Linked DNA regions of Homo sapiens: region 2 is linked to region 1. The links come from fine-mapping of genetic effects on gene expression. A gene starts in region 1. The other region holds a variant in brackets. All regions are shown on one strand. Distances are from middle to middle. Region 1 holds the start of ATP10A (ATPase phospholipid transporting 10A (putative)). Region 2 has its middle 18 kb from the start of LINC02346.

The links.
Region 2: its variant is fine-mapped to the expression of ATP10A in tibial nerve (GTEx, PIP above 0.99). The same link has a PIP of 0.9 or more in fibroblasts.

What each region holds. Positions count from the first base shown.
Region 1 is chr15:25,859,484-25,871,864 of GRCh38, reverse strand. ATP10A (ATPase phospholipid transporting 10A (putative)) reads left to right here and starts at 8,538. Exons shown (of 21, transcript NM_024490.4): 1 at 8,538-9,217. The coding sequence starts at 8,769. It overlaps ATP10A-DT (ATP10A divergent transcript), which reads right to left and starts at 6,595. Exons shown (of 2, transcript NR_183988.1): 1 at 5,957-6,595.
Region 2 is chr15:25,878,163-25,890,543 of GRCh38, reverse strand. No RefSeq gene overlaps it. Among named protein-coding and RNA genes, the nearest start is that of LINC02346, 18 kb to the left of the region's middle. The variant G/A (reference allele first, on the strand shown) is at 5,892.

The DNA.
Region 1 (12,381 bases):
TACCTATCTATCCCATCTATTTATCTATCATCTATCTGTCTACCTATCTATCCATCTATCTATCATCTATCTACCTATTATCTATCTAATCTATCCATCTATCATCTCTATCCATCCATCATCTATCATATCTATCTAATCTATCTATACATCTATCATCTCTATCCATCCATCTATCTACCATCTATCATATCTATCATTTCTCTATCTAATCTATCATCTATCATCTCTATCTATCCATCCATCTATCATCTATCATATCTATCTATCCATCCATCCATTTAAATATCTATCTATCTAATCTATCCCTCCATCTACCTGTCATCTCTGTCTATCCATCTATCATCTATCTATCTATCTATCTATCTATCTATCTATCTATCTATCTATCATCTATCTAGCTAGCTAGCTAATTATTTCTATCTTTCTATTAATATCTATCTTCTATTCTTGCTGTTTCTCTGGAGAATCCTGACTAATACAGCTATTTTATAGTTCATTTGTTGAGTTGAAAAAATAAATCCAGCTGGAATATTAGTTCGGAAAATGTATAAGATCAACTGGTTACTTTCAGAGTTCCAATCAGGGACATGGCATATTTTATATCTATTGAGATCTTCCTTTATCACATTCAGTAAAATTTTAAGTTGACTAGTCATGTGACAACATACTTCTCATCTATAATATTGGGATAAACATTCTCCTGTCTCAGTGAATGGCCAGGAGGGCGGAGAAAATGACTAGAAAATGAGAAGCACATGCCTGGCTGGTGTTACATGTGCTACACAGGCCAAATATTACTCCTGCTGTTGTTTGCTACAATTATTTGCAAACATCTTGAACTGGTTTTTGTTATTTTTCCTTAAATATTTTATTCTAAAAATGAGACCATTTTTGTTCATTTACTGCATTTTCTAATTGGCTATTGCTTGCATAGGAGTAACTTACTGATTTGTACATCTTTATTGTATAGTTAGCCTCATTACTAACTACTTCCCTGATAAAAACCACAGTTTATTACCTGGGCATAGTGGCATGCCTGTAGTCCCAGCTACTTGGAGGGCTGAGATGGGAGAACCACTTGAGCCCACGAGGTCGAGGCTGCAGTGAGCTGTAATTGCTCCACTGCACTCCAGCCTGGGTGACAAAGCTAGATCTTGTCTCAAAAAAAACCTCACAAAGTTGCAAATAGTGATAGATTTTGCCTTTACACCTATAAATATTACTATAGAATAAAAAAGAAAACTACAAATAAACTATTTTCCCTTGCAATTCTGCTATCCAGTTTTAATAGCAGGTTTTGCTAACCTTGCAGAATAAATTGAGAGGGTTTCAATATCTTTTTGTACTGCATTATAAATAAAATTGAGGAATAAACTATTTTGTAAACTTTGTCAAATATTCTCCATTGCGTGGTTTTGGAAGATGAGATTCTGAGGACCCGTTCAAGATCTTCCGGAGATTGTTAATCTATTCGAAATACGTGCTTATTCCTTATTAATTTATATTTTGTTTATTATATAAATACGTTAGCATGATATCAAGGTAAATACTTTTTCTTTCAGCACACAAGCACAAGTGTTGTCTCTCTGAGTCTTTGCTTGTCTGCAAATGCATTTAATTGTCAGGATCGTTGAATATCAATTTGACTAACAGAGAAGCTTATATTCAAAACCTACTTCTCAAAAAATTCTGTTGATGTTTTTCCATCACAGAATGAAGGTGAACATTCATCTACCGGATATTTAGTAAGAAGCCACCCTGCGCGGTGCTCTTCTAGGCACAGGGGCTACCTTGCAGCAGTGAAAGAGGCAGACACTGACTCCTGCCTTGTGGAGCTGAACGTCTTGCCACGAAGGAGAAGAGGCAGTCAGCTAACACGTGGGATGCCTATCGGTGCAAATTCAAATAGAGCTGGAAGGGGATGTGGAGCCCTGGGTGGGTTGTGTAGGAAGTGCCTGGAGAGTTGCAACCCAGCTGGGCTGAGCTCTCTGGTGTCTTCCTTCTGCCCGGTCTTGGTTTCATTATCTTAGTTGCCCTGTTAGTTCCCTGTGGCTTTAAAATACATTTTTTGTAAGCATTTTGTCCATCTTTCCTAGATGTCTCCTGAAGGGCTGTCCCAATTTTCTTGGTCTGCTACTGGCGCAGGCAAAAGTGAGAGGGATTTTTCTGGATCCACCCTCTCCCCAATATGACCATCTAGATTGTTAATGTTGCCACTTTGTGGGTTTTTTTTTAATGTGTTACCTGCTGTGCTTTCTACTTCCAAGAATTTTTGGCTGTTCCTCATTTACTTCCTTTCCATGGCAATTTTATAGATGGGCTGGTCTTCTGGATATCTAAGGACAATAACGGTGATTTCTAATGTTATTGTCTGTGTTCTGCATTGGCTCTTTTTCCTCAGAGAGGGGAAACTCACTTGGGTGAAGTTTGCTTTTTTTTTTTCATATTACCAGTTGTTCTAAAACAATCCAGTGACTCTTGACTGTAATATAGATTCATGCTTATCATTGCAGATATCGACCAGAGGTTCTTAAACCTGGCTGCAATTGGAATCACCCAAGAAGCTTTTAAAAAATCTGGGTGCTGGGGCCTGGTCCCCATGTGTACTGAGTCTGGAGCAAGGCTTGGGCATTGCTTGGGCATTAGTAGCTCATCAGGTAACCTTAAGGAGCAGCCGGTCTTAAGAGCAGCTACTTGAAATAACCAGCGTGGGACTTGCAGTGGCATCCTGGATGTAGCAACATGGCGGCCTCGTTATTTTCCCACCTGCGCCTCATCCTAGAATGGCCTGCTTTCTCTGATTTTGAGCCTTCTCAAGGGATCTACTGGAAAAACTCACTTTTTTAAAAAAAGTGTCCTTGCTTACTTAACTCTGTAATATGTTTTCTTTTTTCTTTTCTTTTTTTTTTGAGACTGAGTCTCGCACTGTCTCCCAGGCTGGAGTGCAGTGGCGGGATCTCAGCTCACTGCAACCTCCGCCTCCCAGGCTCAAGAGATTCTCCTGCCTCAGCCTCCCGAGTAGCTGGGATTACAGACGCGCGCCACCACGCCCTGCTAAGTTTTTGTATTTTTAGTAGAGACGGGGTTTCAACATGTTGGCCACGCTGGTCTGGAACTCCTGACCTTGTGATTCGCCCGCCTCGGCCTCCCAAAGTGCTGGGATTACAGGCATGAGCCACCGCGCGTGGACAATATGTTTTCTCATATGTGTTAGACTTTCCCGCTAATGTGTTCATCAGTTTTATGTATTCCTGACATCCCTCAATATCTTCTGAGATATCTTTTCGTCTTCTGAAGGTACTTTTTCCCAGCTCCCCAGCACAACTGTACATTTATCTTTTTGAAAAATATCATGTGTTTTGTAAAGGAAATTTAGTTTGGAAAAACGGAGAACAAATTATCTCAGGCAGGCATATCAAACTATGAATTCCTTAGAAATTATGGTATGTGGGATAAGGAAAAGCTTAAAAATAAAAAATATAAATTTTTGCTTCTCTCTCTAGAATATATTTTTTTTTTTTTGACGGAGTTCACTCTTGTTGCCCAGGCTGGAGTGCAATGGTACAACCTCGGCTCACTGCAACCTCCACCTCCCTGGTTCAAGCGATTCTCTTGCCTTAGCCTCCTGAGTAGCTGGGATTACAGGCATGTGCCACCACACCCGGCTAATTTTGTATTTTTAGTGGAGATTGGGTTTCTCTGTGTTGGTCAGGTGGGTCTCGAACTCCCGACCTCAGGTAATCCGCCTGTCTCGACCTCCCAAAGTGCTGGGATTACAGGCATGAGTCACTGTGCCCGGCCAGAATTTTGTATTTTTAGGATTATGTACATAATCATAGATTTAGCTTACTCAATCATTAGTCAATTACTTTTGTCCAAAATTTCACAGCTCTGTATTTTGGAAGTTTTTGGATGATGCTGAGGCCATATTAATTAATAGGTAGCATCTGTGCCTGGTTTTTCATATTACAAATTTCAGAATCTGGCTGGACCCAGGTGGGAGGATTGCTTGAGCCCAGGAGTTTGAGGCCACCCTGGGCAACATAGGGGGACCCTGTCTCTTTCTAAAAATTAAAAATAAAAATAGTTTATTTATTTTTGAGATGAAGTCTTGCTCTGTCACCCAGGAGTGCAGTGGCACAATCTCGGCTCACTGCAACCTCCACCTCCCAGGTTCAAGCAATTCTCCTTCCTTGACCTCCCAAGTGGCTGGAATTACAGGTGTGCATCACCATGCCCAGCTAATTTTTGCATTTTTAGTAGAGACGAGATTTCACCATGTTGTCTAGGCTGGTCTTGAACTCCTAACCTCAAGTGATCCTGCCCACCTCGTATCCTAAAGTGCTGGGATTACAGGAATGAACCACCACGCCCAGCCAAAAATTAAAAATATTTAAAATAAAAATTTTAAAAATGTCAGAATCTGTTATGCCTATTTGTAAGGGCAGTCACTAGAGTAAATATTAAACAATGCTGTCAGGTTAAAATGTTTTAGACTGTGATTCTTACTTATTCCATAATTATTTATTTCACCAGCCATTAGAGGTACTGATTCTTGGTATCTGAAAACTGGAAACAATCTTGATGATTGTCTCATTCAATTCTCTATACTTCTTAGTTGGAAAGTAACACCCAGAGTCTCTTTTTATGCCCTGTGTGCATCTCGCGCATCTAGGTGCGATCTCATCACATAGCTCTAACCCCCAGGTGTCTCCCAGCATCCCCCACAGCTGTGTCACCAGTGTGGACCTTTGCTGTCATGTCCGGTCTTCGATACGCCACTGCCCACTTGCCATCTCACACTTAACATGGCTTATGCTGAGCTTGCATTTTCTCCTTAAACCACTTCATTTATTTTTCTCACTGAAACATCCAACCTGTTGGCCAGTCACATTAGCTCTGCCTGGAAGACGTACTTCCAATTTGTCCATGTCTGTCTATCCAATGCCAGGTGTAAGCCACCTCTTAATTTACACCTCTCCTGCTCCAACTCTGCTCGGAATCAATTTTCTATCTATTAAAAGAGCATATAAGATCTTCTCATCTCACGCCTCTCTGCTTGGGGCAGCCCATGGCTCCCTATTGCAGTTGGAGCAAATCCAGAGACTTGTCCTTTCCAAAGGCTAGTGAAGCCCTAAATGCTGGCCACTCTGCTGCTCCTCATGGCTACCCTCTCCTGCATCCAGACCTGCTCTTGACCCCAGACTGACATCACCACTGCCAGCACGACTCCTGCTCCTGAGGGCTGGTGGGCACCTCCAGTTCTGCCTCATCTTCTGTCTTCCCAACTCACTAGATGAAACTTGGGTTTTTAGCTGTTGGGCCACCCTCACCTCCTCTCTTGCACATCCCACAACCATTCCAACAGCATGTCCCGCATGCTCTGAGGAGGCTATGTCCCACATCCACCATGGCCACCCAGCCTGAGCCACAGCACCTTTGCAGGATCACTGCAGTGGCCGCTCGCCACGACGTCTCCCTTCTTCTGCCCTGGCCCTCTACATTCTATTTACATTGCAGCAGGAGTGATCTCTGGAAACCTCGGTAAAGCCACTTGATGCCACTTCTCAAAATCCTCCCAAGCTTTCCCTCTCGCTCAAAAGCCAAAATCCTCACCGGGATCCACAAGGCCCCACATGACCTCACTCTCGGCCACGTCTCCAATCTCCCACTCAGCTCCAGCTACCCCGGCTTCCTTGCTGGGCCTGAAATCCCTGAACGCTCCCTATCCCGCCCCGTGCTTACCATTTCTTCCCTAGGTGCCTGCACAGCTTGTGTCCCTAGGCCTCCGCTCAGTGTTGCTTGAGAAGCCTCCTTGGACCGCCCAATTGACAGGAGCAAGAGCAGGATCCCACCCCTCCCAGCCCTGGTTTCAGGTGTCCCTTCATTTTCTGAGCCATCTTTGTTGGGATTCCCACGTGAGGACTTAGTGTTCCGGGGAGCAGAAACTTACTGTGTTTCCCAGGTGTCCCCATTGCCTAAAGCAGAAGCTGTGGGGTTGAAGGTTTTAGAATGAGTGTGAGGCAGAAGCCCCACCTGTTTCTTAAACACATTGAGATTTCTCCTTCTTTGGGACCTTTTGACAGAGCTGCCCCCTCTGTCTGGAAGCCTCTTCCACCTGATCTTGTCCCATTCAGGTTTCAACTCCAGTGCCTCTCTTCGAAAAGGCCATCCCTCATCCCTTCCAAAGCCCTCCGTGGGCTCTCATGGTTTTTCGTTCAGTTGCTGCAGCTCCATGACAACATCTTGTCCTCTCTAGCTCTCCGATGAATTCCTGTGCCTGGAACATTGCCGGGCATACAGCAGGGGATGAGTAAGTATTTGCCGAACAAGGACACTTACAGTGGTTCTCATGGCCTATAGCAGGCCCTTGTTAGAGCCCTGTGGTGCAGATGGCCAACCCAGAGTTGACCAGACCACATCAGAGCCTCATCCTCGCCCCAGCAGGCCAGGGTCTCAGAGTCCAGCTGGCAGAAGACACCTGAGCTCAAAACCCCTCCACGATTCCCCAGATCACACAGCTTGGAGACCTTTCCAGAGGTGAGCTGAGCTAGGCCTTCCTGGAAATCCTGACTTTGCACTGGGGAAGAGCAGGTGGAAAAAGATTCCAGACTTGAGGAGCATTGTGACTCACAGAATCTTGGAACCTTAGAGCGGAATGTGGATGGGATGAGTAAGGACTGTTCTGAGAAGGATAAGGAGACCTCTCACCTTGGGGCTGGGCCTGAACCAGGGAGGGGCTGAAGAAAATCAGCAAGCTGGTTCCCCTCAGGGCCTCAAGGGACCTCTGCCTGAGGAATCAGCATTTGGCTTTGTAAGCACCAGGAGTACTCCTGGAAGCTCCAGGGTAAGCAAATGGAATGAGGCGGTAATTACTTTGGCAACAGTGTGGACTGGCTGAAGCTGGGAGTCTGGTAGGCGCGGACACCCCTGGAGACTTTGGGCGAAGGGTCCACGGGGATGCCTGTGAAGACAGGAGGCCGAAGTGTAGGGAGGCCGAAGGCCTCGGGGGTCACCAGGTGGGCTGGTAGAGGAAAACACGGAGCCATGGGATGTGAGGCCTCAAGACTGCAGGCGCTGTGGGCCTTCATTTGCAGTTGATGCTCCGTTTGGGTTTCTGCTGGTTGACTGTGAGACCTGACTCCTTTCCCCAACAATGCAGACTTCAGCCAAACCTTTCCCTGATCTGGGCCTCTACATGTCAAAAGCCCACCCCTGTGACTGGGGGATGGGATTATTTTCTTCACACCTGTCACCACTCTACCTTCTAACACTGGGTTCTGGGCAACATTGTGGATGGTGGCAAAACTGGGCAGAGATGTAAGAATGTCATAACTGGAGCCGGGTAAGCCAGGGTGCTGGAGGGGAGGGCCTCCCCAAGCCAGGGTCCTGGCGAAGACGTGATTTGAGTCCATCCAGGGCAGTGCCTTGTTAGCAGGCACCCCCAGGAAGAGCCTGGGGCCACGGCCAACCGCCCAGCCACGGCCTCCTGGGCAAGAAATAACTGCTTCTCATCTCTGTACTTCTTGAGTGGGAGGCAAACAGTCACAGCCATGAAACATCTGTGGGGTCTCACTGCGGACGTGGGGGACTCCCAGCTCCTTTTTCCATGCCGTGCTTATTCTCCCACCCCTTCTCGGATGCCCCATGATGTGGAGGGGAGCCCTTCGCCCCACACTTCTGGGACACCCTCCTGACGCTCCCCTCTCCTCCCCACAACCATCCTCGCCTCCCCACAACCATCCTCGCCTCCCCCGCCGTCCGGGCCATGACAGCCACCTCAGAGCTACAGCGCACAAGGAGCGTTTCGGTCCTCATGATTTCCCAGGGAGGGAAACAGACACTCAAATACCTGCAAACCAAATTCTGTCTTTGCTATAGCGATATATTTCTCCTTTCCATGAAGAAAGAACAGAAAAAAGAAAAAGAATTTATTTAGGAGAGGAAGGAAAGGCAGTAATGATGATGGTGGAAAGGAAACGGTCTAGTTCGCCCAACAACGGAATCTGAAAGTGGTGGGGGCTGGGAAGTGGGGTAGGAAAGAAGTTCTTAGAGGCAACGCGGAATCGCCCTTCCCAGGGCTCCCCAGGAGCAGAGGTCCTGCGTAAAAAAGACTTAAAAATTGGAGCACTGGATGCCATGGATCCTTTGGATTTTGATTCCAGTTGATCCCTGGAGTAAGGTCCTAACCGGGGTCTCCCGAGGTCGTTTCGCCGTCCAGGATGGAGCAGGTCTGGCCCCTGGAAGGGCGCGCGGGCTGCTTGGGGACGGGGGCGCCTTTTCTCGCGCTTCGCGGTTTCCTCTCTCCTACTGCAGGCAGCGCGCGTTTGCAGCGTTTTGGGACCGAACTGATGCTTCTGGGAAACGAAACTAAACCTCTCTGAAGTTTCCAGCTCGGGCTTTTTTTGTTTCCCGCTATCCGGCGTGGCCCAGTCCGGGCGCGGAACGAGGGCGGGGCCGTGGCCACCGCGGCGGAAACGACCCGGGCCGGGGGCGGGCGGCGAGGACAAGGGGGCTCTGTGCGGCACCCGCCCAGCTTGCGCCCTGGGGACTGCGGCCGGGCGGCGGGGCTGGACGGGAGTGGACGGGGCTGGGCGCGGGCTGGGCGCGCTGGGCCGGCCAGGCGGCGCGCTGACCGCGGTCTCCGTGCGTCCCGCAGGCGGGGAGCTCGCACCGCCGCGCCCGGGCCGCGAGTGATGATAACCTAAGAGGCCGGCGCGGGCGGGCGTGAGCGGCGGAGGAGCCGGGCGCGGCGACACGCGGCCATGGAGCGGGAGCCGGCGGGGACCGAGGAGCCCGGGCCTCCGGGACGGCGGAGGCGCCGAGAGGGCAGGACGCGCACGGTGCGCTCCAACCTGCTGCCGCCCCCGGGCGCCGAGGACCCTGCGGCTGGCGCGGCCAAGGGCGAGCGGCGACGGCGGCGCGGGTGTGCCCAGCACCTGGCCGACAACCGGCTCAAGACTACCAAGTACACGCTGCTGTCCTTCCTGCCCAAGAACCTGTTCGAGCAGTTCCACCGCCCGGCCAACGTGTACTTTGTCTTCATCGCGCTGCTCAACTTCGTGCCGGCGGTGAACGCCTTCCAGCCCGGCCTGGCACTGGCGCCGGTGCTCTTCATCCTGGCCATCACGGCCTTCAGGGACCTGTGGGAGGACTACAGCCGCCACCGCTCCGACCACAAGATCAACCACCTGGGCTGCCTGGTCTTCAGCAGGTGAGTTGGGCGGGCGGGCGAGCGAGCGCGCGGTGGCGCAGGGCAGGGCGCCCCGGGAACTTGGTGTTGGGCACAGTGATTGGCAGGGGCTGGGTGCTTAGAAGGCAGCTCCACTCAGGGTGGAGGGCCCGGCTGCGCGGGACCCGGTGCCGACCGAAGCCACAGCGCCGCCAAGGCCTCTCTGTGCCTCCGCCGCAGCTAAAGGGGCGCCCTGGATGCGGGGACGCGTGGGGATCCCCTGTCACTCCGTGTCGGGGCCAGAATGATCCCAAGGCTAGAAACCGACGGCCGCTGGACATCCTCATCCACAGCCGCTCCCACCTGAAGTGAAAGGCAGGAAAAGCCAGCCTGGCCCCCTGGCCTGAAGTCCCTGCCTCAGTCTTCGGCCAGGCACAGTGGTCTCTGAACAGCCGGCACAGGACAGTAAAGCTCAGTCTGCTAACAGCTCGGCTCAGGACAGCAGCAAAGTGAAACTGCCGCCAAGTGCTGATATGTCTGGCACGGCCCAGGTACCAGGGCAGGGGAAATAACAGCAGTGTCCATCCTCCACTGTGAGCCATGAGCCGCGAGCCAGGCACCGCCCGGTAGCTGCCTGCCTAATTTTCTTCATCTTAACCTGCTTCCTGGGGGAAAGAGGCTGTGGGGTGTTTGTGAGCCCTGCCACGGGCAGTACCAGGGGTGACCCTGCGATGGACCACTCCTGCTCTTTTTCCCTCCCTGAGTTTTAGAGTCTCCGGCGGACCTGTCCAGAGGCCTGCGGCCTTTTCATCCTTTATGCTCTCCACCCCAGGAGAGCCCCTTGGTAGATCCATCTTGGAGCTGTGTCCAGCAGCCTGGACCACCTCAAGGCCCTGTCCCTGAGAAAGGTGGGTCGTCTTAGCTTTCCTCCAAAGCTCAGCCCATCGTTACCTCCTGCCTCACCTTGCTTGACCCCGGAACAGGGACTGAGATGGGCTTCTGAATAGAACATTAGCGGTATCTGGCTTCCATTATGCATGGGGAGACTCTAGGAAGCCCTATGCTCTCTTAGTGGCAGATTGTTCCCCTAAAAGAGGAGGGTCAGAGTGGCTCCTGCCTCTTAAACGTAGGCATTCACGAATGCCTTAGACACAGGCACTCATAGCTTGGATGAAGCCATGGATGCGTGCCTCTGTAGTTGAGTACCTTTCACCCTCCCAGCAACACTGCAGTGGTTATGCTCCATATTTTTGTAAACAGAGTAAACGGGTTCAGAGAGGTTAAGTAAACCTGCCCAGTGTCACACAGCAGCAAGGTCGTGGTACTGGGATTTGACCCAGGTCTTCCCGCCCGCACAGCTTTTTGAATATTTCTTTGCTCGTGCTTCTGAAACTTTTGTAAGAGTCACTGAAGGCGCTTGTTAAAATTACAGTTTTCCAAAGTGTCTCACTCAGCAGGCCTGGGATTGAGCCCAGGAATGTATTAGATTAGCGTGCACGTAACTCTTATATGATGGCCCACACTTTCAGAAACACCACTCTGCCTGCTCCCAAGCCTTGCTCTTTGGCCAGTCAGCAAGAGTGACTGTCATTAGACCGGGCTGTGGGATTTCCTGGCCCCTGTTCACCAGAAGCCTGAGCAGGGACAAGAGCGGCACCCCTTACACAAATGGCCTCCGTGTCCCCTGAGCGAGGCCTCCACCACATAGCCCTGGTGGGGCTCAACAGTTTTAAGCCTTTGCACAGATACCACTTCCTGTTATTACTGAGCCCGTAACTCCTGTAGCCTCCTTTTTAGAAATACTTATGCCTCAGGAGAAATACAGTTTATTTTCAGTTGGCAAAGTGCTTTGAATCCATTATGTCATTCGATCCTTATAGTAACTATCACACCCATCTTGCCGATGAGGAAACTGAGGTTGGGATCTAAAAGCTATTCTCTTGTCTCTGTGACCTTGTAAGGCTTCATGGGACTTTGAAACTTTAGCTTCCATTTGGACTACACCCATCTACGTTCCCCTCCCCTTCCACTCTGCCCTTGACTCCAGATATCTTAACTCTCCCTCAGACTCTGTCTTCTTCCTTACTGAAGGAACTGTCAGCATTTTTCATTCACTTCCCAGCTGCCTTGAGGACAGTGGGCGCAATGCCCTACTTCTGTTTATTGTTCCCTGGGAAGGCAGGTCAAATTCTTCCAGTCCCAGAAAGGCTGGAAGAGGTGGTGCCAGGCCCTGGGAATAGAAGGAGGAGGAGGCTGGTTTCACCCAGAGTTTACTGTAGGGACAGATGGCACCATAGGGCATGTCTACCAGGTGAAGTCCTGGGTGGGGCTCCCAGCCCCGGGATGCAGGCTCCATGTCTGGCGAGGCGTCCCAGTGCAGGACAAGAGTCTGGGACGGTGGTGTGAGGATCAGGAAAATGGTGCCAAGCAAGGTGGGGCAGAGAGTGGGTGCTGCAGTGAGAGATCGGGGGCGGGGGGTGGACAGGGTCATGGCACAGAGGTTGAGAACAGGTTCTAGGGTACACTGGGGTGAAGCATCGACATGAAGCCCTGGCTCTCAGGACCTGGCACCCAGACAGCACAGAGCAGCCAAGGAAATGACTTCTGTGTCAGGCCAAGGTCTGTGCAGTGCGTTTGGTTGACTGCAGAGAAGACCAGACGCACGACTGTGAACTGTCTAGGTCTGTTTTGTGTGGCGCTTCCTCCAAGTGTTGCTGCTCTAGCTGCTGTGCATAGGAGTGTCGGTCCAAGCGTGCAACACATTGTTCACGCAGAGTATGAGCAGACTTTAGCTGGAAGTCTTACCTGCTGCCACTGTCCCAGAAGTGACTTCTGGGACATTCCCTTGTATGTGGATGTGCAGCCTGTAGTGCGTCATCGTTTATGTTATTATTTATGTGCTGTTTTTCAGTGACACCATCCTTGGGCCCCTTTCTGTGAGAATCCCCTTAGAGCCTGTTAGAAATGTAGCTTCCTAGGCCAGGGTGTTTGAGAAGCAGTCCTGTTTCCTCCTTCTGAACCCATTTTCTCCTAATGGATTTCACACGCTATTTAGGAAAACCCTCTTGAGCCACGCTCAGCAGGTTGGGGGAGCACTGGGTGATTCTGGGGGGGTTAGGTCCTGCCTGTGGCGCCTGCAGGGGGGAAGGGCCACCCACCCAGCGTCACTAAGCTGTGGTCCACTGTGATGGGAGGGTGTGGGAAGC
Region 2 (12,381 bases), 19 kb before region 1:
AAGCTTTGTGTCCAGACAAACATGTGCACAGGGATGTTTATAGCAGCTTTATTCATAACTGCCAAAACTAGGAAGCAACCACCATGTCCTTCAGCAAGTGGATGGCCAAATAAACTGTGGTACATTCAGAGAATGCAATATTATTCAGTAGTAAAATGAAATGAGCTATCAAGCCATAGAAACACATGGAGGAAAGTGACACGTATGTCACAGAGTCAAAGAAGCCAATCTGAAGAGGCTACCCACTGCATGGTTCCAACTGAACGACATTCTGGAAAAGGCAGAACCATGGAGACAGGAAAGTGATCGGCATTTCCTGGGGGCTAGAGGAGAGAGAGGGATGGATAGGGGAGCACAGAGGATTTTTAGGGCAATGAAACTACTCTGTACAATACTGCAACGGCGGATACAGGGCATTATACATTGGTCCAAACCCACACAATACACAACACCAAGAGTGAAGCATAATGTAAGCTGTGGTCTCTGTGTAATAATGATGTATCAATGTGGCTTCATCAATCATAAAGAAATGTGCCACTCTGCTGGAAATATGGACGGTAGGGGAGGCTATGCTTGTGTGGGGGCGGAGAAGATGTTGGGACCCTCTGCTCATCTTGCTGTGAACCTAAAACTGCTGTAAAAAGATAAAATATTTTTTTAAAATGAGATTTTATTGATAAATAGAACGTGCTAGAGAAATTGTTATGTGCCCATTAAGTGGGAGGTATGTTATGCAGAAATGCCAGCCACATAATTTGACCCTCTCATGATTTCTTATTCCTGCAAAGACGGATGTGGCTCATAGCTTGGTCCACCCAGTGCAGGAACGATATGAATAAGTATTTCCATTCTAGCCTAAATGCCTTCCCCATAATGCTTCCAAATCCTTTATTTCCTTTCCCAACTCAAAAGCAGTAAATTGAAGGTAGCAATTTTAGGATCCTATCTGAATTTTCCACCTAACTAACTTTTCTTTTTTCTTAAATCTTGGCAGCTTATGAATCCGCACACATTCCTCTGCCTTGGAGACCTTAAAAAGATTCTAGCGGTCGGGTGCGGTGGCTCACGCCTGTAATCTCAGCACTTTGGGAGGCCAAGGCAGGTAGATCACGGGGTCAGGAGATAGAGACCATCCCGGCTAACATGGTGAAACCCTGTCTCTACTAAAAATACAAAAAATAAGCTGGGCGTGGTGGCAGGCGCCTGTAGTCCCAGCTACTCCAGAGGCTGAGGCAGGAGAATGGCGTGAACCCGGGAGGCGGAGCTTGCAGTGAGCCGAGATCCCGCCACTGCACTTCAGCCTGGGCAACAGAGCGAGACTCCGACTCAAAAAAAAAAACAAGATTCTAGTGACATAATAAATTCTGCCTTATTTCCACCCAAGATCAAAAGCTCTTTACACTTAGTTCCACAGGAATGTGGGGGCAGCAGGTGACCTTAGCGGTTGACGTGAATCTCTCAAAGGCTGGCCGCCTCAGAAGAGATCAAGCCTTAGATCTTCCTTCCCCTGCATGCGACTCTGCCGCCAAGTCTCAGGAGGGCATCTGTACTCACATTTGCAAAAGGTCAGCCGAGCGTGATGGCTTGCACCTATAGACCCAGCTACTCTGGAGACTGAGGCTGGGGGTCACATGAGACCAGGAGTTTGAGACCAGCCTAAGCCACACAGTGCGACCTGTCTCTAAAAAAAAAAAATTGTTTTAAATTAGCAAGCCATGGTGGCATCCATGCGCGTGTAGTCCCAGCTACTCAGAAGACTGAGGCGGGAGTTTGCTTGAGCCCAGGAGTTCAAGACTGTGGTGAGCTAGGATCAGGCCTCTGCACACCAGCCTGGGTGTCAGAGAGAGACCCTATCTCTAAAAACAAACAAACAAACAACAACAAAAAAAACTTGCAAAAAGTCAGGATGGGCATGGAGAGAAGGCACTGGCAAGGAGGTGGCTCCCTACAAGTTTCTTACATCTTCCCTTATACCCTAAATCCTGCCCTCTTTTCCTCCTACCTGGATAATGATTTTCTTCCTTTGGCCTCTCTGATGTACATCCCACCCTCAATATCTTCCCTTTAGTCTACTTTCCATTATGAAAACCTGGAAAGGAAAGAAGCTTCAAAGTCAAAATCCCCTAGTATTCAAAATTGTTTAGGAACCATGAAGTACCAATTTTCCCCATCAGATAAGCAAAAGAGACAGATGGATAGTATCTTATAGGTTTGGACGTAGGGAAATAGCTCACTCCATGCAGTGGCAGATACAAACTCCATGCAGTGGCACAGCATTTTGGAAGGGCTCTTTGGAAGGACTGCACCTATTCAAATTCAAATGCATGTTTCCTTGACTGAGATACCAGTTCTAGGAATCTAGCCTATATCAATTCAGTCAGTGCCAAAGGTATACGTGTAATGTATGTTTTGAGTCATATTGTTTGCAATAGAAAACCACTTATATGATCGAAATACTTATCAGTATGTCACTGGTCAAGAAGGTTTTGAAAACACTTTGCTAGAGAATGCAACAGAGCTACCACAAAGGGTAAGATCCAAACAGCCTGCAAAGAAAGATTTTCTATATTGTGCTTCTGCTGTTATACGATAAGCAAAGACCAGGGTCACATGTTTCTTTTGTAGTTTAGCCATATGGACTCCCAAGGTGTAAACACCACCCCCCATGGAGTCATGGCATCAGACTCCTCAGCAACCTCAAGGACAGGTTTCAGAGTAGCAACTGGACTGCGTCTCACATCCTTGCCTCAGCCCAGTAAAGGTCTTCCTGCAGAATCTTACCCTGGCTCACACCTCTTTTCATTCCAAAATACAAAGAAGATCCATGATTCCATCTCAGATCAAATCTAGAAAATAACAGTTATACATTGAGGCCAAAAAAAAGAAAGAAAGGATAAATATTTAAAAAACAAAAATATAGAGGACAGGCTAGATGCAGTGGCTCACGTCTGTAATCCCAGAACTTTGGGAGGCTGAGGCAGGAGAATTGCTTGAGATCAGGAGTTTGAGACCAGCCTGGACAAGAGAGCAAGACCCTGTCTCTAGAAAAAAAAAGAAAAAAGCCAGGTATGGTGGTGAGTGTCTGTGGTCTCAGCCATTCAGGAGGCTGAGGTAGGAAGATCTCTTGAGCCCAGGAGGTTGAGGCGGTAGTGAGCCAAGATCACACGACTTACTGCACTCCAGCCTGGGCAACAGAGAAAGACCTTGTCTGAAAAAGGAGGGATGGAAGGAAGGAAGGAAGGGAAGGCAAGGGAGGGGAGGGGAGGGGAGGGAGGGAAGGAAGGAAGGAATAAAGGAAAGGAAAGCTCACTAAGGAACCAATAATGAGGAAAGTGTGAGCACAGCTAACATTCAAGAACAACAGCCGTTTGGAAAAATGGCTGCAAGTAACAATTAAAACAAGCAAATAAAAAAGCAACAAAGTACAATTTTTACATAATAAGTCAACAAACATAATGATAAAAACCCTGGGCTCCAGAGGCTCTGTGGAATCTGGTGCACTGTGCATACAAGTGAAGTCCCCACACCCTTTCCCCTCCAAGACACACACTTCCCCAAGCCAGGCGTAAGCACCCAGATCTGCTGGCACAGAATGGGGAGGTTGGGCAAGTCTGCGTGGGAAGGGAACAGAGATGAGGGCCTGGGAGAAAGCACGGGTGACTTGACTAGAGGCCTTGAACTTCCCCTCTCACTGGTCTTTTTCTTTAAAACAAACCCATTCACCATCCCTCCACCCCTCCATGTTCCCTGCTGCTCCTGATTGATGCAAAAGAACAAACACATTCATTTCCTAACAAACACCCATGTGGTGAGATAACATGTTGATCTGAACCGACATGCTTATCATTCCGTCTTTCCCCATGGCCTCCTTCCATTTTGGCAGCAACTTGAGGTCTTGTCTTACCAGCTCTCGAATGTTGGCCGGGAGAGGAGAGGAGACCCAGTGTTGGAGCTCTCAGCCTTTGCATCCCAAAATAGACTTTTGAAACTTCATGTGGAGAAAGAGAGACCTCAGGGAAGCTCATGATGAAAAGGCATTTCTCTCACCCACTTCATCCCAGACTTGACAAAGACGTCAGAGTCCAGGGAAGGAGGAAAGGAGAAGACCAACACAGATAATTCTATATGGCAGGCGGCCTAGCGTCCTGTCCTGCACCCACAAGCCTGATTGAGGGAGAAGGGACAGAGGGAACCCCCTTTTCCTTTCCCTCTTACTTGGCCCAGTCCCTTCCTGGCTTCTGCCTACCCCTGTCTTTGTTGCCTTTGATTCAGTGTTTTGTTACATCCGCATTGGTTTCACTATCTTTCATCAGTCCTATAACCTCTCTTCCCAACTCCTCTGCCTCCCTTTTTCTCAAAATCTATGCCTTTTTTAGACTGACGGTTCCTGCCTTACGACGGTTTGACTTAGACTTTTCAAACTTACTGTGGTGTGAAAGCAATACACACTCAATAGAAACAGTACTTTGAGGCCAGGCATAGTGGCTCACATCTGTAATCCCACAAGTTTGGGAGGCTGAGATGGATGGATCCCTTCAGGCCAGGAGCTCGAGACCAGCCTGGGCAACGTGGTTAAACCTCGTTTCTACCAAAAATACAAAAATTAGCCAAGCATGGTGGCGGCGGGCACCTGTGGTCTCAGCTGCTGGGGAGGCTGAGGTAGGAAGACGGCTTGAGTCTGGGAGGTCAAGGCTGCCACAGAGCAAGAACCTTTCTCAAAAAAAAAAAAAAGAAAGAAAGAAAGAAAAGAAAAAAAAAGAAAAGAAATAGTAGCTGGAGAACCCACACAACTGTTCTGTTTTTCACTTTCAACCGTATTCAATAAACTATCTGAGATATTCAACACTTTATTATAAAATAAGCTTTGTGTGAGATGACTTTGCCCAACTGCAGGCAACTGCAGGCACTCTGAGCATGGGTGAGGTGGGTTAGGCTGAGCTAGGATATTCAGCAAGTCAGGTATATCACATGCACTTTCTACTTAAGATATTTTCCATTGACCACTGGTTCATTGTGACGTAATCCCGTCATAAGCCGAGGAGCATCTGTATTATTACTATTATTATTATTGTTATTATTATTATGGTGTGTGCACAACAAATGTTTATCAGCTTCTCATTCTCTTTTCCCAATTGTCTCATTTTTTCATTTTTCAAATATTTATGGACAATCTACTATGCGCCAGTCATTGTTGCAGGTACTGGAGCTACAGGAGAGGACAAAGTAAACACAATTTCTATCCTTTCCCTCTCATGGACTTTATATTCAAATAGGCTGGGGGCGATGTAGAAAATGATATCAACACATAGACTGTAACACCAGGTGGTGATGAGGGCTCTGAAGATAAGTAAGTCAGGAAGAAGGAAGCTGCCAAACACAACTGGAGTAGTGTCAAAAAGGTACATACCACTAATCTCAGCGCTTTGGGAGGCTGAGACAGGAGAATTGCTTGAGACCAGGAGTTTGAGACCAGCCTGGACAACATAATAAGACCCTGTCTCTACAAAAAAAAAAAAACTTAAAAATTAGTTCAGCATGGCGGTATGTGCTTGTAGTCCCAGCTACTCAGGAGGCGAGGCAGAAGTATTGCTTGAGCCCAGGAGTTTGAGGCTTCAGTGAGCTATGGTCATGCCACTGCACTCCAGCTGGGGTGAGAGAGAGACCCTGTCTCTAAAAAATAATAACAAAATGAAATAAAAAGGGACTGACTTGGATGTCAGTGCATTAGGAAAGGTCTTTGAGAAAGTTGACAGCCTAATGCAGTGACAGTGGCAGTTAGACAGGCATCGATTGCTCAGACTCACAGATCTGCAGATTATTATGAGGCGGAATCCAATATGCTGTGTACAGCAACCACATTAAAGTAAGGTTATGCATCACAGCCAAAGGGC[G/A]TCTCCCAATAAGGGGCCAAGAGAGGTCAGGGCAGGCTCCTCATGCTCCCTCTGAAAGCACTTGGCCAGATGCACCCTCTCTCAGATCAGGACCTAGGAGCTACAGAGGCATGCACTAAGCAGGCTGTTAAAGCTGAACCAAGAAGCAGAGCCAAACTGGGAAGGTGAGGTGCAAGGGACCACAGAGACTGAGTGCAGGGAGCAGAGGCAGGCAGCGGGTGTTTGCGTGCTTTTTGTAAGTATTTTGGTTCATCTTAGTGTGTCCACTTAATGGAGCTAGAATAAGTCAGCAATTTCCATGTGATAGTCCATAATTAAAAGAAATAATACCATGTTGTTATAAGGAAAAGAGAGTTGAATAAGAGGTTCTTGGCTTCATTAAGCCAATTAGATCAGTTTCCTTCTGGGAAAGGCACAATGATTCCTACCGCACCAGAGAATTCAAGTGAACCCTGACAGCTCTCAGGATTAGGAAGTATTTGCTCAAGCATGGAAGTCAAGCTTCAGGGGTGGCTAAAGAATGTCTGAGCCTGACTATGCAGATGCCACGCGTAACTAGACTGTGGGAGGATAGCATATATCGACAGTAAGTCATCCAAAGGGCTTCTAATTTTTGACTTATTATAAAAGCATACTGCACATTCCGGGAAGTGCACACATCATAATGTACAGTTAAAGGATTACCACAAAGTAAATACAGTCATGCCAAGAAGTAGAGCATTGCCAACACTCCAGAAGATCCCTTATGCTTTCCCCAGCCACTGACACCTTTCCTTCTTAAAGGTAACAACAAAAGTAAAAAGAAATGCAAAAACCCAGGCAACTGGCATTCTGTTCAGTTAATAGAATATTACAAAACCTCACAAAGTTCCCTTAAGACCCTTTCCAATCATTTTCCACCCCTCAATGCCAGAGGCAACCATTGTTTAGACTGTTTTCCAAGCTACATTAGTTTTGCCTATCCATGGACTTCATCTACATAGAATCAAACATTAGGGAGTCTTTCATCTCTGGCTTCTTTCACTCAGCATAATGTACTGTGATTCATCTATGTTCTTGAATGTATCCTTGATATTATTGAATAACAGTCCATCATATGGAAATAACACATTTTGTTTATCCATTCACTTGTCGATAGACATTGCAGTGGTTTCTAGTTTTTGGCTATTTTGAATAAAGCTGCAATGAACAACCATTTTATGTACATATATTTTCATTTATCTAGAGTACATGACTAGGACTAGAATTGCTGATCACAGATAAACATATTTCATTAAAACAGAAACTACCACACATAGTTCCATAGTGGTTGTGCTGATGCTGGACAGGCGAGCCCCCAAATTGGGGCTTAGCCTGGGAGGGCTCTTGGCTTCACCCAGGAAAGAATTCAAGGGTGAACCGGTGGTGTTAAACAGCAACTTTGATGGCAGCACAGTGCACAGCAGTAGCAGGGGGTACTGCTCCTTGTGAAGCGGGGCTAACCACAGGCAGTGTGCCCAGAGTAGCAGCTCAGGGGGGTTCCGCAGTCATTTCATACCCACTTTTAATCACAGGCAAATCAAGGGGTGGATTATACAGAAATTTCTAGAAAAAAGATGGTAACTTCTGGGTTGTCAGGTCATTGTCATGGAAAGGGGTGGTAACTTCTGGTGTTGCCATGGCAATGGTAAACTGACATGGCACTGGTGGGCATGTCTTATGGAGAGGTGCTTTTGCCTCTTCCCTGTTTCAGCTAGTCTTCAATCTGGTCTGGAGTCTGAGCCCCACCTCTGGAGTCAAGTCCCACCTCCCGCCTCAGTACCTGCTTTACACTTCCACCTGCAATGCCTGAGAGTTCCAGCTGCTTCACATTCTTTGCCAATATTTGGTGGTATTATTCCTTTTCACTTGAGCCATTCTAATCTGTGTGTAATTGTACCACCTGGGCCTGGAGTTTCCTTTATGGGAAGGACTTTGATTTTGTTTTTATTTCTATTTTTATTCATTTTAAATTTGAGATGGACATTTGGTCTGTTGCCCAGGCTGGAGTGCAGTGACACAATCATGATTCACTGCAACCTCGACCTCCCAGGCTCAAGCAGTCCTCCTGCCTCAGTCTCCCAGGAAGCTGGGACTAAAAGTGTTCACCACCATGCCTGGCTAATTTTTTAAATTTATTTTTAAGAGAGATGAGATCTCACTATGTTTCCCAGGCTAATCTTGAAATCCTGGGCTCAAGTGATCCTCCAGCCTAGGCCTCCCAGAGTGCTGGGATTACAGGCATGAGCTACTTACTGCACCTGGCCTAGGACTTAGATTTTGAATTTAATATCTTTAACTGATATAGAGCTATTCAAATTTTACCTTCATCTTGCACTGGTTTTGGTAAACTGTTTTTCAAAGAAATATCCTATAACATCTAATTTGTTGAATGTATTAGAAGTCCACTATGTTGACTTGTTGTTGTTTTAATAACTATATGTTGTAGTGTTGCAGTGAGAGTGCGATTTCATTTAACCTCCACTTTTTTGCTATCAGTGTCATATATTTTAAATTTGCATAAGTTAGAAACCTCACAATAGATTGGTATAATTTTTTGTTTAAACAATTGCTTGCTTTTCAAAGACATTCAGAAATTAAATATAATACAGTATCTTTTTTGGTTTATATTTACAATATCCAGTCTTCTCCACTTCTTTTCACCTGAAGAACTTTTAGCTTCTCCTCTAACTCAGGTCAGCTGGTAGTGAATTCTCTCAGCTTTTGTTTATCTTAAACTGTCCTTATTTCACACTGTCCTTATTTTTGACAGATATTTCTTCCTCGATATAGAATTATAGGTTGATGGGTTTTGATGAGAAGTAGCTGAATTTATATATAATTTCTCTCTATGTAACATGTCTGGTTTTATCTGGCTATTTTAAAGATTTTCTCCTCATCTTTGATTTTCAGCTGTTTGACTCTATTGGGCCTAGTTGTATTTTTGTTTTATTTATCCTGCCTGCAGTTTTCTGAGCTTCTTGGAGGCTTATGGAAGCTTATATTTTAAACAAATTTGGGAAATAATTGGCCATTATTTTCTCAAAACATTTTTCTGACTCATTCTCTTTCTGTTCTCCTCCTAAGACTCCATCTTTCCATATTGTAGACTATTGAATATTGTCCTACAGCTCAATGAATCTCTGCATACTTTTTCTCCCTAATATTAAGATTGGATAATTTGCATTTATCTATATGAATGTAAGCAGAGTATGCTTTGATCATCTTCAATCTACTGCTAGGGCCATCCAGTGAAATCTTCATTTCATACATTGTACTGTTCTAGAATATCCATTTAGTTCTTTTTACAGTTTCTATTTTTTCCACTGATGTCCCTTATATTAAAATTTATTATGACCATTGTGTATGCTAGGTTGCTGAGAGTCTTTTTCTTCTTGGTCTTCTTTTAGATCTGTGCGTTTTATTCTGGCAGCCAGTTAAGGTACTGGTGGTTCAGCTTGATCCAGCTAAGGCTTGCTTCTGGACTTTGATATTGACATTGTGGGTCTAAAGTAGCCCTTACTCTTTTTTTTTTTTTTTTTTTTTGAGGCAGAGTCTCACTCTGTCGCCCAGGTTGGATTGCAGTGGCGTAATCTTGACTCACTGCAACCTCTGCCTCCCAGGTTCAAGTGATTCTCCTGCCTCAGCCTTCCAAGTAGCTGGGATTACAGGCACGTGCCACTATGCCTGGCTAATTTTTGTATTTTCAGTAGAGACAGGGTTTCGTCGTGTTGGCCAGGCTGGTCTCAAACTCCTGACCTCAGGTGATCCATCCACTTTGGCCTCCCAAAGTGCTGGGATTACAGGCGTGAGCCATCGCCCCTGGCTGAATAGCCCTTACTCTGACTGATGTAGTCCTGTCCCTCAGACATGGCCTTGCTGTGGTCTCACTTGAATACTCAGAGTGTTCACCATTCTGTTTCTGGTGAGGCAGAACTCCTGTGTCTCCCAGCACTCCAAGCACTACACAGTCTCTGGAATTTCCATTCAATCTAGCAGCTGCTCACTGCCAGGCCTTGCAATTGACCAACGCAGAAGCATAGCTTAGTATCTAGCCAAAGACTTAAGCAGACACTGTGCAGACTTTTAAACTCCTTCTCTGCACAGTTCCCCATTCTTTCTGATACCCTGTCCTTCAAATTGCAGCTGCCTAAGCCACCCTGAGCTTCAAGCAAGGCCTCTATTACATGGTGAGACCATCAGTCATGCTCTGGGTGGATTCCACTTCCTCCCATCTCCAGCTGCAGTTTGGAAAATGCCCTCAGGTGGCAAACAGAGGCAATTTTGGTGCCCACCCTACACTCTCTTCCTCTTTCAGGGATCACAGTTCAATCTTGCTATTGCCTGGTGCTCAGAAACAATTACCTTGGCTGGACACCGTGGCTCATGCCTGTAATCCCAACACTTTGGGAGGCTGAGACAGGAGGATTGCTTGAGGCCAGGAGACCAGCCTGAGCAGCATAGTGAGGACTCCTCTCTATAAAGTAAATAACTAAATTAGGTGGGTATGCAGCACATACCTGTAGTCCCAGCTACTCTGGAAGCTGAGGTGGGAGGATTGCTTGAGCCCCAGAGGTCAAGGCTGCAGTGAGCTATGATCGTAACCACTGAACTCCAGCCCGAGCTACGGAGTGAAATCCTGTCTCAAAACAACAAAACTCCTCACCTATTTTGCCCATATTTATAGTTGTTGATGGTGGAAAGGTTAGTCTGGTATCAGTGACTCCATCATATGGCAAGAAATGAAAGTAAATTGCCAAGAGTTTCATTTTCTTTTTAAATTTGTACTTTAATGATTTATAAACATCATCATATACAGGTTATATTTTACAACATGTTGTCCAACCTTTAAAACAAACAAAGAAACTTCAACAAATGTAAAGTAAGGAAACAGATTTTTAAGTAGCTTGGTTTTCAAAAAATTCATTTTGAGGAAAGCGGAGCCATGGAAAGGTCTTCTGCTGACAATGCTGCTACGCTACCTTCCACCACGCCAGCAGAGTCCCTGGATGCTAGGATCTAAATGCATTTGGCAGACACAGCTGAGAAATAGATGTGTGACGTTAATAAAAGAAACAGTTTAAAAATGCATGCTTTACTCCAATCTGTACCTATATTTTTATATTTTTGTCTTCTGCAGCACTCTCATTTGCTTGGAGTTTATAAATTATTGCACTTGCCAGAGCCATCATTCTAATAATAAAAATGCTAAATTTAAACTTTCACTTTTTTGAACTAAAACTCTCAATTCTGCCTGTAATCTCAGCTACTTGGGAAGCTGAGGCAGGAGAATTGCTTGAACCCAGGAGGTGGAGATTGCAGTGAGCTGAGATCGTGCCATTGCACTCCAGCCTGGGTGAGTAAGACTCTGTCTCAAAAAACATACAAAAAAGAAAATAAACAAAAAATACCCTCTCAATTCTACTGGAAATATAACCTAAGGTTTTTTTTGTTTTTGTTTTTGTTTTGTTTGTTTGTTTGTTTTTTACTTTAAGTTCTGGGATACATGTGCAGAATGTGCAGGTTTGTTATGTAGGTATACATGTGCCATGGTGGTTTGCTGCACCTGTCAACCCATCATCTAGGTTTTAAGTCCCGCATGCATTAGGTATTCGTCCTTTTACTCTCCCTCCTCCTTCCCCCCACCCCACAACAGGCCCTGGTGTGTGACATTCCCCTCCCTGTGTCCATGTATTCTCATTGTTCAACTCCCATTCATGAGTGAGAACATGCTGTGTTTGGTTTTCTGTTCCTGTGTTAGTTTGCTGAGAATGATGGTTTCCAGCTTCATCCATGTCCCTGTGAAGGATATGAACTCATTTGTTTTTATTGCTGCATAGTATTCCATGGTGTATATGTGTCACATTTTCTTTATCCAGTCTATCATTAATGGGCATTTCAGTTGGTTCCAAGTCTTTGCTATTGTAAATAGTGCTGCAGTAAACATACGTGTGCATGTGTCTTTATGGCAGAATGATTTATGATCCTTTGTAACCCAAGTTTTATTTTAAAAAAAAGTTAAAGTTTCAACCAAGCCAGAAGATCATAACTACAGAGAAAGGAAAAGAACATGAAATATCCAGTTTTCTACATGGGTAGCTAAAGTATGTAATGTATGTGCATTACTTTTACTCAAAGTTGCTTTTTTCTTTTAGAGACAGACTCTTGCTCTGTTGCCCAGGCTGGAGTGGAGTGGAGTGGCATGATCATAGCTCACTGCAGCCTCCAACTCCTGGGCTCAAGCAATTCTCCTGCCTCAGCCTAAGTAGCTGGACTACAGATGTGTGCCACCATGCCTAGCTAATCTCTTTGCTTTTTAAAAATTTTTTTGTAGATACAGGTTCTCACTCTATTGCCCAGGCTGGTTTTGAATTCCTGGACTCAAGTGATCCTCCTGCCTCAGCCTCCCAAAATGTTGGGATTACAGGCATGAGCCACTGCACCCACGCTCAAAGTTGCCTTTGTGGTGTGG